Linked DNA regions of Homo sapiens. The protein of the gene in region 1 purifies or fractionates together with the protein of each later gene. This does not show direct contact. Each region holds a gene or a part of one and is shown on either strand. Other genes may lie near its edges.

Evidence for each region. Proteins that work in one complex are often made in the same cells at the same time.
Region 2: the proteins of NEXN (region 1) and CORO2B purify together in Homo sapiens (co-immunoprecipitation; one large-scale study listed by IntAct). This does not show direct contact.
Region 3: the proteins of NEXN (region 1) and PTPN4 purify together in Homo sapiens (co-immunoprecipitation; one large-scale study listed by IntAct). This does not show direct contact.
Region 4: the proteins of NEXN (region 1) and CNN3 purify together in Homo sapiens (co-immunoprecipitation; one large-scale study listed by IntAct). This does not show direct contact.

The regions. Positions count from the first base shown.
Region 1 is NC_000001.11:77,891,624-77,895,123, reverse strand, and holds part of NEXN (nexilin), read right to left. Parts: intron 1-3,500. UniProt on the Homo sapiens protein: Involved in regulating cell migration through association with the actin cytoskeleton. Has an essential role in the maintenance of Z line and sarcomere integrity.
Region 2 is NC_000015.10:68,721,993-68,725,149, forward strand, and holds part of CORO2B (coronin-2B), read left to right. Parts: intron 1-3,157. UniProt on the Homo sapiens protein: May play a role in the reorganization of neuronal actin structure.
Region 3 is NC_000002.12:119,979,922-119,982,660, reverse strand, and holds part of PTPN4 (tyrosine-protein phosphatase non-receptor type 4), read right to left. Parts: 3' UTR 1-2,739. UniProt on the Homo sapiens protein: Phosphatase that plays a role in immunity, learning, synaptic plasticity or cell homeostasis. Regulates neuronal cell homeostasis by protecting neurons against apoptosis.
Region 4 is NC_000001.11:94,924,311-94,928,593, reverse strand, and holds the start of CNN3 (calponin-3), read left to right. Parts: upstream 1-1,483; 5' UTR 1,484-1,699; coding exon 1,700-1,756; intron 1,757-1,853; exon of another isoform or gene 1,854-2,234; intron 2,235-2,824; exon of another isoform or gene 2,825-2,961; intron 2,962-3,246; exon of another isoform or gene 3,247-4,283. UniProt on the Homo sapiens protein: Thin filament-associated protein that is implicated in the regulation and modulation of smooth muscle contraction. It is capable of binding to actin, calmodulin and tropomyosin. The interaction of calponin with actin inhibits the actomyosin Mg-ATPase activity.

The DNA of each region.
Region 1 (3,500 bases):
GCAGTGAGCTGAGATTGTGCCACTGCACTCCAGCCTAGGCAACAGAATGAGACTCCATCTCAAAAAAAAAAAAAAAAAAAAAAAAAAAAAAAAATTACACTATAGGCTGGCCATGGATGGTGGCTCACGCCTGTAATCCTAGCACTTTGGGAGGCTGAGGCAGGTGGATTGCCCGAGCTAAGGAGTTCGAGACCAGCCTGGCCAACATGGTGAAACTCCATCTCTACTAAAATACAAAAAATTAGCCAGGCATGGTGGTGTGCGCCTGTAGTCCCAGCTACTTGGTAGGCTGAGGCAGGAGAATTGCTAGAACCCGGGAGGTGGAGGTTGCAGTTAGCCGGGATCAGGCCACTGCACTCCAGCCTGGGCTACAGAGCAAGACTCCATCTCTAAAAAAAAGGAAAAAAAAGTATACTATAGGCTGGGTGCATTGGTTCATGCCTGTAATCCCAGCACTTTAGGAGGGTGAGGCCTGGGCAACATGGTAAAACCCCATCTCTACAAAAAACAGAAAAATTAGCCAGGTGTGGTGGTGCACACATGTAGTCCCAGCTACTCGGAAGGCTGAGGCGGGAGGACTGCTTGAAGCTGGGACATAGAGACTGCAGTGAACCCTGATCACGCCACTGCACTCTAGCCTGGGTGAAAGATCGAGACCCTGTCTCCAAAAAATAATAATAATGAAATAAAAATGATACTATAAAATGTCCAAAAAATAATAATGAAGTAAAAATGATACTATAAAACCTGTCATAAACCTCATTGCAATTCAAAAATATGAAATTAGATCCTATTTCACCTATACGAAGTAGTGATCTATTTCCCTCCTACCAATACACAATTCCTCACCGAAAACCAAGAATCTTATGCCAGGTGCAGTGGCTCACACCTGTAATCCTAGCACTTTGGGAGGCCGAGGCAGGTGGATCACCTGAGGTCAGGAGTTCGAGACCAGCCTGGCCAACATGGTGAAATCTCGTCTCTACTAAAAATACAAAAAGGCCAGGTGCGGTGGCGCATGCTTGTAACCCTAGCACTTTGGGAGGCCAACGTGGGCAGATCACGAGGTCAGGAGTTCGAGACCAGCCTGGCCAGCATGGTGAAACCCCATCTCTACTAAAAATACAAATTAGCCAGGCGTGGTGGCGAATGGCTATAATCCCAGCTACTCGGGAGGCTGAGGCAAGAGAATCACTTGAACCCAGGGGGTGGAGATTGCACTAAGACGAGATGGTGCCACTTCAGCCTGGGCAAAAGAGCAAAATTCTGTCTAAAAAAAAAAAAAGAAAGAAAGAAAATCAAGAATCTTTTGAATCTTTCAACCTGCCTTGATATCCTTCCGCAATAAGTATAAATAACACTTTGCCCTTATATGACAGTATGTGATACTTTTCGAAGTATATCCACCAAACTATGAGCCCCTGAAAGGTAAGAACTGCTCTATTCCTCTCTATAGTTTTAGTGTTTCGCACAACACCTAGGACATAGTACAAGCTCTATTCGTATTTGAGCTAGTGAATGAATGACAAAGAGATAACAGGAAAACTGTCTGATCCAAAATCATCCCAAATAAGACACATGATTCTTATCTACAAAAGGAAGACTGATGATCTAGATGCACTAACTAAAATAATAAAAAATAAAATGGGGTGAATTTATGCTAAACTAAATACCATGAACAACCAGAAACCTGAGGCTTCAGGAGTTCTGTTCCCAAGCAAATTGATGTGGTAATCACTGGAGTCTGGGCCTCCTCACCATCTCTGCAAGCGGAAGATGATCTTTCATTGAAGGACACAGCTGGGAATAGGAAGACCTGGATCTCTGGCTCCAAACATGTCAGTGGAATGGGGAGGCAAAAGAAAAACAGTAAACTCCTCTTTATAGCCAAGCTGTAGGAGTCACAAAAACTCTCCTAAACACTTCTCAAATGGACAGGGAGTAGAATTTTTAAGGAGGCCAGGCATAGTGGCTCACACCTGTAATCCCAGCACTTTGGGAGGCCGAGACAAGAGGATTGCTTGAGACCATGAGTTTGAGACAAGCCTAGGCAACATAGTGAGGCTCTATCTCTACAAAAAATTAAAAAATCAGCCAGGCATGGTGGTGCATGTCTGTAGTCCTAGCTACTCAGGAGGCTGAGGTAGGAGGATCACTTGAGCCCAGGAGATAGAGGCTGCAGTGAGCCAAGATCATGCCACTGCACTCTAGCCTGGGTGACAAAGCAAGACTCCGTCTCAAAAAAAAAAAAAAAAGATTATTTACAAGATCCTAGGAAATACTTCCTTAGCAGAAATATCTTCCCCATGCTTTCTAAAATCCCACCAGGGAAAGTATTTTATTTGTTTTGGTTAGCAATATATGGTCCCTTCCAGCTCTAATCGACACTAACAATTAGTGTCAATGAATGCTAATCTCTTCTCCCACTCCCATGATCACATTATTTAAGAGGTTTGCTAACCAAAATATATCTACAATGTTTAAAGTCCCAGTTCCTGTTGCTAAGTACAGCAGACTTTCCATCATATGATGCATCAGATATACTTGCCCTAATACTTAGATCGGGGACTGCATACTCAAGTATTCAGGGTCAGGTAATGTAAATGTAATGTAAGGTAATGTTATGTAATATAATTGACAGGTAATGTAAATGAGTGTATGACTTGTTTAAAACAATAGGGAATCTCAGAGACTATGTCAAATGCAGAGCATGTGACCTGCCTGTCTGTGGGGCAGCCACTATTTAGTTCCAGTATATTGTTCCTGTGCAAAAATGTTAACCTTTGGGTACAATGTACACTATTTGGGTGACAGGTACACTAAAAACCCAGACAGACTTCACCATTTTACAATTCATCCATGTAACCAAAAACCACTTGGTACCCCTAAAGCTACTGAAATAAAAATAATTTCTTTAAAAAAGTGAACCCAGATTTTGCCCAGATTTTCCAATTTTTAAGAGAGGACGTAAATCGATATTTTAATGTAAAATGTACCAATTTTTAAGTATGTCTGTGGCTAAAAGTGTCTTTTTTTTTTTTGACACAGAGCCTCACTCTGTTGCTTAGGCTGGAGTGCAGTGGTACAAGCACGGTGCACTGCAGCCTCAGCCTCCTGAGCTCAAGCAATCCTCCTGCCTCGGCCTCCCAGGTAGTTGGGACTACAGGCATGCACCACCACATCTGGCTAATTTTTAAATTTTTTGTAGAGATGGGGGTGGGTCTCACTATGTTGCCAGGCCTGGTCCTGAACTCCTGGGCTCAAGGGATCCTCTCGCCTCAGCCTCCCAAAGTGCTTGGATTACAGGCATGAGCCACCACACCCAGCCCCAAAAGTGTCTTTTTTGTTTTTGATTTTTTTTTTTTTTTTTTTTTTTACTTTTTTTCCACACTTGGTAATCAGGAAGTAAAAGGTGTCTTTTTGACTGTCGACTTTTTGACTGCCATAGCCTTAGTCTAAATGAATAGACAACACTGACAAAATGGAAAGGGTCAAAGGGG
Region 2 (3,157 bases), on another chromosome or scaffold:
TCCTCCCACTTTCGCCTCCCAATGTGCTGGGATTACAGTCATGAGACACTGCGCCCAGCTATTTTCTTGTTTTTAAAAGAACTCTACTCTTTGAAGATAGAGACACAGGGGTCATTGTGATAGCCCAGGAGGGCAATAACAAGGGCCTGAGCTCAGTTCTGGCACTGGGTCTGGAGAAGGCAGGGTTGAATAGTAGTTAAATCAAGCAATATTTCGCTGTAGACTTGCCTATGGAATCAGAATTGAGAACCTGGAGGAAAAGCTTAAAGGGTCTCAGAGCAGACAAAACAGATGCCACAATCTACACCAAAGTTGTGCATCTTCCTCGCTGGGAAGAAGCTTTCTCAAAGCCTGCTGACTCTGCCTTTATCCACAGTTTTAATCATCGTAGCAGTTCGGAAGCAGCCAGTTAGAAAGTGGGGCTGTCAAAGGTGGACGCATTGATCTAAGTGTGAGGAAACAACTGACAGCTTGATGCGAGGGAAAAGTCCTACGATTGTACAACTCAGGAACTTTACTAAAAATCGCTGAATTGTAAGCTTAAAATGAGTGACTTTTATGGTGTGTGAATTACACCTCACTAAAGCGGTTTTTTTGACAAAAGTGGACCAAAAAACAATGCAAAGAAATTTTGAGAACTTGGAAGACGCAAGAGTGTGTAGAGTCATTTAGTGCAAAGGCAAATAGCACGTCATCCCTCTCAACAGATGTAACTGGGACTGGTGGTTTGTTAGTTAACAAAAAATATTTTTTTAAGTTATATTTTTTTAAGTTAGTTAAAGGAGGCAATCATGGCTGGGCACGGTGGCTCACGCCTATAATCCCAGCACTTTGGGAGGCTGAGGCGGGAGGATTGCCTGAGGTTAAGAGTTCAAGACCAGCCTGACCAACATGGTGAAACCCTGTCTCTACTAAAAATACAAAATTAGCCAGGTGTGGTGGCGCACGCCTGTAATCCCAGCTACTCGGGAGGCTGAGGCAGGAGAATCACTTGAACCCAGGAGGCAGAGGTTGCAGTGAGCGGATATTGCACCATTGCACTCCAGCCTGGGCAACAAGAGTGAAACTCCGTCTCAAAAAAACAAAAACAAAAGGAGAGAATCATAAAAATGATACATACATTCTTTTTTTTTTTTTTTTTTTTTTTTAGACAGAGTCTTGCTCTGTCACCCAGGCTGGGGTACAATGGCACAATCTTGACTCACTGCAACCTCCACCTCCCGGGTTCAAGCAATTCTCCTGCCTTAGCCTCCCAAGTAGCTGGGACTACAGGTACCCACCACCATGCCTGGTTAATTTTTGCATTTTTAGTAGAGACAGGGTTTCACCATGTTGGCCAGGCTGGTCTTGAACTCCTGACCTCAGGTGATCCACCTGCCTCAGCCTCCCAAAGTGTTGGGCTTACAGGTGTGAGCCACGGCGCCCAGCCAATAGATACATTTGGTTTCTTTGTTGTTGTTGTTTTGTTTTGTTTTGTTTTGAGATGGAGTCTCACTTTGTCTCCCAGGCTGGAGTGCAGTGGCATGATCTCGGCTCACTGCAACCTCCACCTCCCGGGTTCAAGCAATTCTTTGCTTCAGCCTCCCGAGTAGCTGGGATTACAGGCACCTGCCACCACACCTGGCTAATTTTTATATTTTTAGTAGAGATGGGGTTTCACCATCTTGGCCAGACTGATCTTGAACTCCTGACCTCGTGATCCACCCACCTTGGCCTCCTAAAGTACTGGATTACAGGCGTGAGCCACCGTGCCCGGCCGATACCTTCTTTAAACCATTTATTTTTGTTTTAAACATAAAACATGCGAGGTGTAGTGGCACCCCTCTAGTCCCAGCTACTCAGGAGGCTCAGGTGGGAAGATCGCTTGAGCCCAGGAGTTTGAGTCCAGCCTGGGCAACATGGCAAGACTCTATCCCTAAAAAATAAAAGTAGGCCGGGGTGGTGGCTCACACCTGCAATCCCAGCACCTTGGGAGGCTGAGGGTGGATCACTTGAGGCCAGGAGTTCAAGACCAGCCTGGCCAACATGGTGAAACCCCGTCTCTACTAAAAATACAAAAATTAGCCGGGCGTGATGGCACACACCTGTAATCCCAGCTACTCCAGAGGCTGAAGCAGAAGAATACCTTGAACCCGGGAAGCGGAGGTTGCAGTGAGCCAAGATCGCGCCACTGCACTCCAGTCTGGGTGACAGAGCAAGACTCTGTCTCAAAAACAAACAAATAAATAAATAATAAAAATAAAACATATACATTCATTTAGCATATTTTGATGCAGGACCAGGACCTTTTCTTCAAGGAGGCCCTCCCTGGTTGGAATCTGCCATGTCTTTCACACAAATCACACCTTAACTCCCATTTCCAGTTTCCATTTCTTTTAGGTAGAAAAATAATTTAAAGTTCATCTGAAAGCAAAGTCCTAGTTTTTACAATGTTTTCTCTCATCTTTTTTTGAGACATTGAGGTATAATTTGCCTATGGTAAAATTCATCCTCTGTAGTGTGTCGGTTTAAGAGTTTTGACAAACACACACAGTCATGCAGCCACCATCAGCCAAGATATAGAATATTCTCCAGTCTTTTAGGGCTAGATCTTCCACACCCAATTCGGCCACAGTTTTTTTAGCATCATCTTTATCAAGATTTTCTAAAGCATTTAATTAAGTTTTTATAGAAACAACAACTCTCTTTTTGTGCTCATTTCATCAATTTATATTATATTTCATTAAATTATGCAATTACAATAACAAATGTAATTCACACCAGAAAGTTTGAGACCAAACACAATTGACTGTGGGTAACATTCAACTCAGGTGTGCAGGAGCCTCAAGGAGCCTGCTGCCTTCCAGGGCTCGGCGTTTTGTGGACATCTGTCAATATGCTTTACAGGAGAAATGGAGGCGGGTTAAGCTAGAGAGTCATTGGGGTGAAGATCTGCCAGGATAGCTGTACATGAATCCCTGACCAGTGCAAACTTTGGTATTCTTGTCATAGTTCCTCATCAGTAGGGAAAAAGCTAGATTCCATTCTGTATCCTGAGCCTCCTTAAGAAGAGAAGGATACAAAGCATTTTAGAAAGTTCTAAATTATCAGCACAAGCCGGGCATGGTAGCTTACACCTGTAATCCCAGCACTTTGGGAGGCTGAGGTGGGTGGATCT
Region 3 (2,739 bases), on another chromosome or scaffold:
TTTATTACCTTCACACACAAACACCCTTCCACACTCCAAAAGTCTAGAATTCAATTATTTTATACTTACAAACAGTATGTGCAAATTTTCTGAAAAGTTTCTATTCTAGAGGCAAAGCAAAATGAAAAAGAATGTACATTATATCTGAAAATGCTTCAATGATTGCTCTTGTTTATAATGAAAATGTTTTTCTTCTAAAATTACATTTTGTACAATGAAGTGTAATACTCTTCCCTTTCTTTTCAATCCCGTGTAGACTTTAAAACAAATAGAGTATCCTTAGAATCAAGCCATAATTCTAATGACATTTGAAAGATACATTCATTTTCTTTACAGCATGAAAGACACACAAATAACATTTTATCTCCTTTAAACAATGAAATTAAAGAAGTTAACAGTTTCAACCTTCTGTCCATAGAAAAATATTTTCTATATCCTTTACACAACAAAGGTAGGAAACTCTACAGTGTTTAAATGAAACTTTTATGAGCTTAACAAGGCTTTCAAACATTTTCATTCTTGCACTGAAAAGTTTAAAAGGTTTCAGGAAGTTAAACCTTTGAACTTTCCCCTAAAATGGTAATCTTTAACTAGCAATATTGCTACTACCTTTTGCTTAGTAAAATTTTTTTAAACTGGTTTACTTATGTATATGCACTGAACCAATGCTGATGGATTGCACCCTAGCAGATATTACTTCTGGTTGCCCATTTAGCTTGGATTACTAAAATAAAAATTATGATTATAACTTCAGAAATCAATAGCATACTACAGTAGAAAAACATACAAATAAATAGCAGCAAATTTATATGCAAACAGAAATAACTATGTGGTGTCTACTCACAACAAATTCATCAGGACTATAAAAAAATATCTAACTTCTGGCAGAAACAGAGATTGCTGTTTGTTTTTTATAACATTGTAAGACACACTGTAGTAATTGCTGAGTATCAATGAAGTCTATATAATGGTTGCAGACACGGTAAGTTGAACAAAAAACATACAAATTAGGGATTAATTTACTGGGTTCTTAATAAAATTGCTGAAATTATTATCAATTAGCCCTCAAAAATGTTTTAGGATTATGTAATTTCCATTTTATCTACATAATTCTCTAAGAGTTTTATAAAATGGTTGCTACAACTTGTATTGTGATCACACTGAGACACCAATAAATCTCTGCCAAGAGATCAGTAAGTCTGATATTTGATAAAATTAATCCAGTAGGTTTTAATAACATAGTTATTTCACTTGGAGGAAGCACCACAAAAAGAATGATTCCAGCAATTGTAGTCAGATAGGTGAAGCAAATGGGGGAAGTAAGCAATGTTAATACAAAGTATTAACTGTGGCAGCTCACATAATGCACCAGCTTTCATCAAAGCAGGCTGTTGCATAATTTATCTATGTCCTATTACATTGAGATTTTTATTCCAACAAATATTTAATATACTTTATTTACTATAAGTGACTGAAATGCAAATTCATCTGAACTATAAAGTAACTACCACAAAATAAAAGAGCCTGTAAACATATCCCACATTATTGTGGTATAAACAATTTTTATGAATTCAAAATTACTTTGGCAACCTTACCATCAGAGTATTTTAAATGTTCAAAATACAGATATTAAATAGCACATTGTTATAAACTAATGTTTCCTTCTCTCTTCCTGATATTATAAAACAAGTAATGCTTTATTTACTTATCTTACATGTTCACATTATGAACACAAATTATTTCATTATAAATGGACATATATTCTAAATCTTAGTTCTATGTTTTGAGTGCTTTTAAAAAATTAGTCTTCTAACTGCAGTCTATAATGTTTTCATACTGCATGTGTTATCAGTCTAAATACTTTACAAAAGCTTATGTTCTGTCAGGCAGGCATGACTAGCAAACTGAGTGGGGGTCCTAATTAGAATCACTTCTTAAGCCTGCTTATTTTCTAACTTAAGTGACATCCTTTAAGGTTGTCATAGTTATTAAGTGAAAACATTGGCTGAGTATGCTTCTCTACTGGAAATAGACAAAAATTCACAAGAATTTATGATATTCACATAGGTTATAATTTATTGAAGTTCCAGTATAATATAGGAATACTAGATAGATAATTAGAAAGCAGATCATATAAGACCAGACTGCTAAATCAATAACCATTGCTGAACCCTATTTCCTAATGCCGATAAAAATGGGCTAAGTGAAGACTGGATAACATTTTTCAAGTTCCTTTCAGCTCTCAAGCTGCAGTACTTCTAGTGGAGATAGAAGACAGGAGACTTTTCCTTAAATACTCTAGACCTGATCAGACCCTGCCAGCAGATGATAACCCAGAAGTTAAAATAATCATTTTCCTCTGTGGGCATTAGCCTTTGTGAAATATACATATAAATAAACACACAAAAGTAGCTCTATGTGTGTGTACACATATTTGAAACCTTCCAGCAATTGTCTTAATGTCTTAACATACCTTTGCACAACTGAAGTCAGATTTCATGTAATAAATGTTCCCTTTACTCTTGATTAAAATCATCAACCACTCCCCTCTCACCTCTTTCTCCTAGCAGACTGTAGAAAGGAAATCATTTCTTAGGCTGTTTACTCTGCCTCTATTTTGAATGGATGCATTGGTTTAACAAATACTATCAATTTTCTGGTGAATGTAAAGTCTATTCCAAATACTCCTCATCATATTTACATGGTGCTGACACAAATCAGATGCTCAATAAAACACCT
Region 4 (4,283 bases), about 17 Mb from region 1:
TCCGGTTCAAGCTGCCTTACTCACTTTTTTTTTTTAATTTAAAAAAACTTTGGATTTTTTGTAGAGACAGGATCTTGCTATGTTGCCCAGGATGTTCCTGAACTCCAGGCCTCAAGCAATCCTCCCACCTCGGTCTCCCAAAGTGCTAGGATTACAGGCATGAGCCACCACACCTGGTTCACCTTACTCACTTCTATTCCAGGACGGTTCAACTATGATGTTTTGGCTCCTCTTCTCAAGCAGCTTTCCACACCTGGTTCCATGATCTCTTCTGGCACAGTAGCTGGTATTTGGCAAACATAGGTTTCATCCTGGGATCTCAGGGATTGAAATCTGTCCTAGGTGTGCACCAGAAAGTGGTGGCAAGAGATGAAGCTTCGGAGGAGGCTGACCTCGGCCAGGATTCTTAAGTCTCAAAGTTTCAGCTTTCTCACCCCTCAACGGACATGAAATCTACCTATTTGTAACTCCAGGGAAGTAAATGAGATAATGTTTGGAAGATATCTAGTCTACCAGCTGCTCAGGCGGGGGGCGAAGGTTCTGTTCCCTGTCCCTTCTCTATCAAATGGCTTTAAAATCAGAAGAAAGTATTACGGGTAGGAAATGGGACTGCGAAAAAAATGGAGGCTGATTCTGGCCTAAAGGATACTTATCTCTATACAAAGGGCTTCTGATTCAAAGAGGCCCCGGGATTCAAAAACACAAGCAGAGCTACACCACGTGGGGTTTGGGACGAGCTGAATTCCGGATAAAGATGCCTGTAAAGAGGAGTTGATGCGAATCCAGAAAAGCACTTGAAATGCCCAGGCTTTGCATGGCACATTCCCCAGGATTTTTTCGCACCGCATTTAGAGGTTTAGACGGAGTGAGCTCGAATCAGGCCAAAAGCCTTAGGTTACTCCTGGGCGGCAGCGGGGCAGAGGTCAGATCAACAGGTGTGGAAGGCTGCGAGGTGAGGGAAGAAGCAGGTGTCGGTGGAGGCCCCAGTTCCTCCGGCCCAGAGGCTCCAACGCTGCTATTGGTGTTCCAGCAGCGGGCGGAGGGGTCCTGCCCGGCATCTGGGCGCGCTGGGCCCAGAGCCCGGGAGGAGGCAGACGGAGGCGGCGGGTCAGCGGCGGGCCAGCCCCGGTGGGCTTCCGCTCCCCTCCGCCGGCCCGGTCCGGCCCGCCGCGGAGGATGCCTGGAGGTTGACGTGAATGGCCTGTGGCTGGGAAGCCCCCAGGCGCCCTGCCTAGCCCGGGGGCGGGGCCGCCTAGCCGCCGGCCCCGGTGGCGTGAGGGCTGGGGCGGGGGCCGGGGACCTCGCGGGGAGGGAGCGGGAGGGAAAGCGGCCCCCGCGGCCCTTCAATTGGCCGCACCGCCCCTCGGCGCAGAGGCGGGAGGAGGCGGCCCTCCATTGGTCGGGCCCGGCGGCCAATCCTCGAAGGCCCAGGCGGAGGCGGGGGCGGCCTGTGGGGAACCGAGGTGCGGGCGGCGAGCGAGGCAGCCGGGTGCTTCGCAGCGGAGCTCGAGGCTCTGTAGCACCCAGTTGGACCCAGTCGCCCAGGCACCGCCCGCGCCCCGCGGCCGTCTCCTGCGCCTCCCAGAGGAGGGAGTTCGAGCATCCCCCGCGGCGGCCACTCCTCGGGGCCAGGAGCGGGGAAGCGAAGTGCGAGAGACCCCGGACCCCAGCGCTGTCTCTTCCCGCCGCCCGAACCACCATGACCCACTTCAACAAGGGCCCTTCCTATGGGCTCTCGGCCGAAGTCAAGAACAAGGTACGCCTGGCTCGGGCGGGCGCGGGGGCCCCCGGGGCACCCTTGGGCTGGCCTGGCGCTGGGCCGTGCTTCGTTTGCTCTTCGCGCTGTGGCTCACCGTTTTCCTGGAGAGGGGCCGTCGAGGCGGCGCGAGCGTCTCTGCCTGTCCCGGTCGCGTCCAGTCCCCGGGCTTGCGGGGCCGGCTCCCGGGCACCCGCCTGGCTTTGTTCCCGCGCCGTGGGACAGGACTAGTGGCTGGCGGTGGGTTCCCGGGCGCCTGGAGTCCCGCGGCGCCAGCCTTTCCGGCTGCGGGGGTCTCGGGGGCCGTTTGGTGACTGCAGAACGCGCCCTCCGGGAAGGGGGCGCTCCTGCGTGGCCACTCGCCCTTAGGCGGAGCCCGTCTGCGCGGCCAGGGACCCGGCGAGCCGCTGCCGCAGCCCCCGCCATCTGCCCGGGCCCCGGGTGCTGGCGGACTCCGCGCCTCCCCACGGGGAGAGAGACCGCCTAATGTCCCGCCGACCCCAGGGGCCCCGAGGAACGGAAGCCGGTCCGGGACCCATCACAGTCTCCGATCTCGGTGCCTGGGAGGCATTTGGAGGCAGATTGCTGCTGCTGCTTCTGCTGTTGCTTTTGCGGGAAATGGAGACAAAGCCTGAGCGCGCCACTGTGCGAGTGATATCTGCTTAGGCTTGAGACTTTTTATGAAACACTGAGAAGTTTGAAGTACATTAGACTTTCACGACATAAAGGATTATTTTTGTGGGTTGCTTTTGTTTGGGGCTTGTTTGCTGAGGCGGCTTATAGTTTGGAGCGATTGGGATTTGGTGACGCTCAGCTTTGCCACTGAGCCCAAGAATGCGTTAGGTTTATCTTTAGGACTTTTGGCCTGGGAAAGAGATGAGAGGCGTCCCCCTCCCCAAATCCTCTCCTTCCTTCCTCCCTCCCTGCATTCCAAGCCCATGACATCAGGGGTTTCTGGGGGGAGAGACCAGCCAATCGGCGCGGAACTGTGCACAGAACGCTCATTGTCTCCTTTCTGCTGTTCTGGCCAAAGCGCCACAAAGGAGGGCTGCCTGTGGTTTAATTCCCATTAACCTCCCGGGAGCCCAAGCATGTCAGGATTGCCACCGCACCGTCCGACCGCTGGTGGAAGGCACTGGCATTGTCAGAGCTGGAACATCCCGGGGCTGCGGGGGTAGGCGGTGTGAAGCGAATTATGTAAAGAGGTAATGAAGCGCACCGTTGTCAAACCCCAAGGGAGAGTTGTGGCTCTTGTCTCCCGCTGTTAGTCTGCACATCATACTGTCTTTGAAGCAAGGAGTTGATTTTAGTCTATGTATCTAAAGTTGAAATGTTTAGGTCCTTTACCTTTTCAAACGTGTTGCCCGTATTAGACAACAGTTTGCTAACAATTTTTTTAGAGAGCAGAAAGGTGAATGGTTTGTGTATGATTGAGTGCAAACCTCACCAACTGAAAAGTTTGTAACAAGTTACTGTTTCCTTCCTTCCAGGATTTACAAACCGAACTTTAGGAAACTTCAGAGGAATGGGCATGTCCAAAATGTTGGATGTGATGTGATACTTTGGCCTGGTTGTGCACATTCATTGTAATTCCCCCCAGTGATTCTTGGCTGGCAGCAGTTGAGTCTCTACTACCTTTTGCATTGTAAATGAGGTACTGATAACGTTGGCAGCCCTTCAAGTGACTTACTTTTCTTGGATGTTAATAATATCCATGCTAATTTCTTTTTTGCTGACTAATGTAGCAGCTTTTGCCCTTTTCCTGCTTAATACTGAGCAGATCCAAGGAAATGCATACACAGGCTAGATCACTGTAATTATTGTAAATATTTAAAAACGGTAAAACCTCAGTTTTTAGAACCTTTGGAAAGTTAGTTATGAAAGCTGTGGATTTATCCCTTTAAGCACCAAACCCATTTTTTAATAACCCGTTTCATTTTTGTAGTCCTTTCAGACAGTATTCTTTCATAGGAAGTCTTTTGATCTTAACAGCAGAGCAGTCCTGTAAGGTGAGGAGGATTGCTGGGATTATCCAACATCATTTACAGATCAGTACACTGAAGCTCAGAAAGATTTGCTCAAGGTCACAGAAGTTGGACTATTCTAAGAATTTTAACTCTAAAAGCGATGTCTTAGTTGAGTGAAGTACTTAGGGATGTTCTACACAAACTCTGCTGTCTGTCGCCTTCCCCCCATTTTTTTTTCTTTCTTTTTTGAGACGGAGTCTTGCTCTGTCGCCCAGGCTGGAGTGCAGTGGCGCGATCTCAGCTCACTGCAACCTTCGCCTCCCAGGTTCAAGTGATTCTCCTGCCTCAGCGCCCCGAGTAGCTGGGATTACAGGTGCCTGCCACCATGCCCGGCTAATGTTTGTATTATTTAGTAGAGACAGGGTTTTGCCATGTTGGCCAGGCTGGTCTCCAACTCCTGACCTCAGGTGATTCCCCCTGCCTTGGCCTTCCAAAATGCTGGGATTACAGGCGTGAGCCATGGCGCCCAGCCCTTCCTCCCATTTTTGCTACCCACCTGT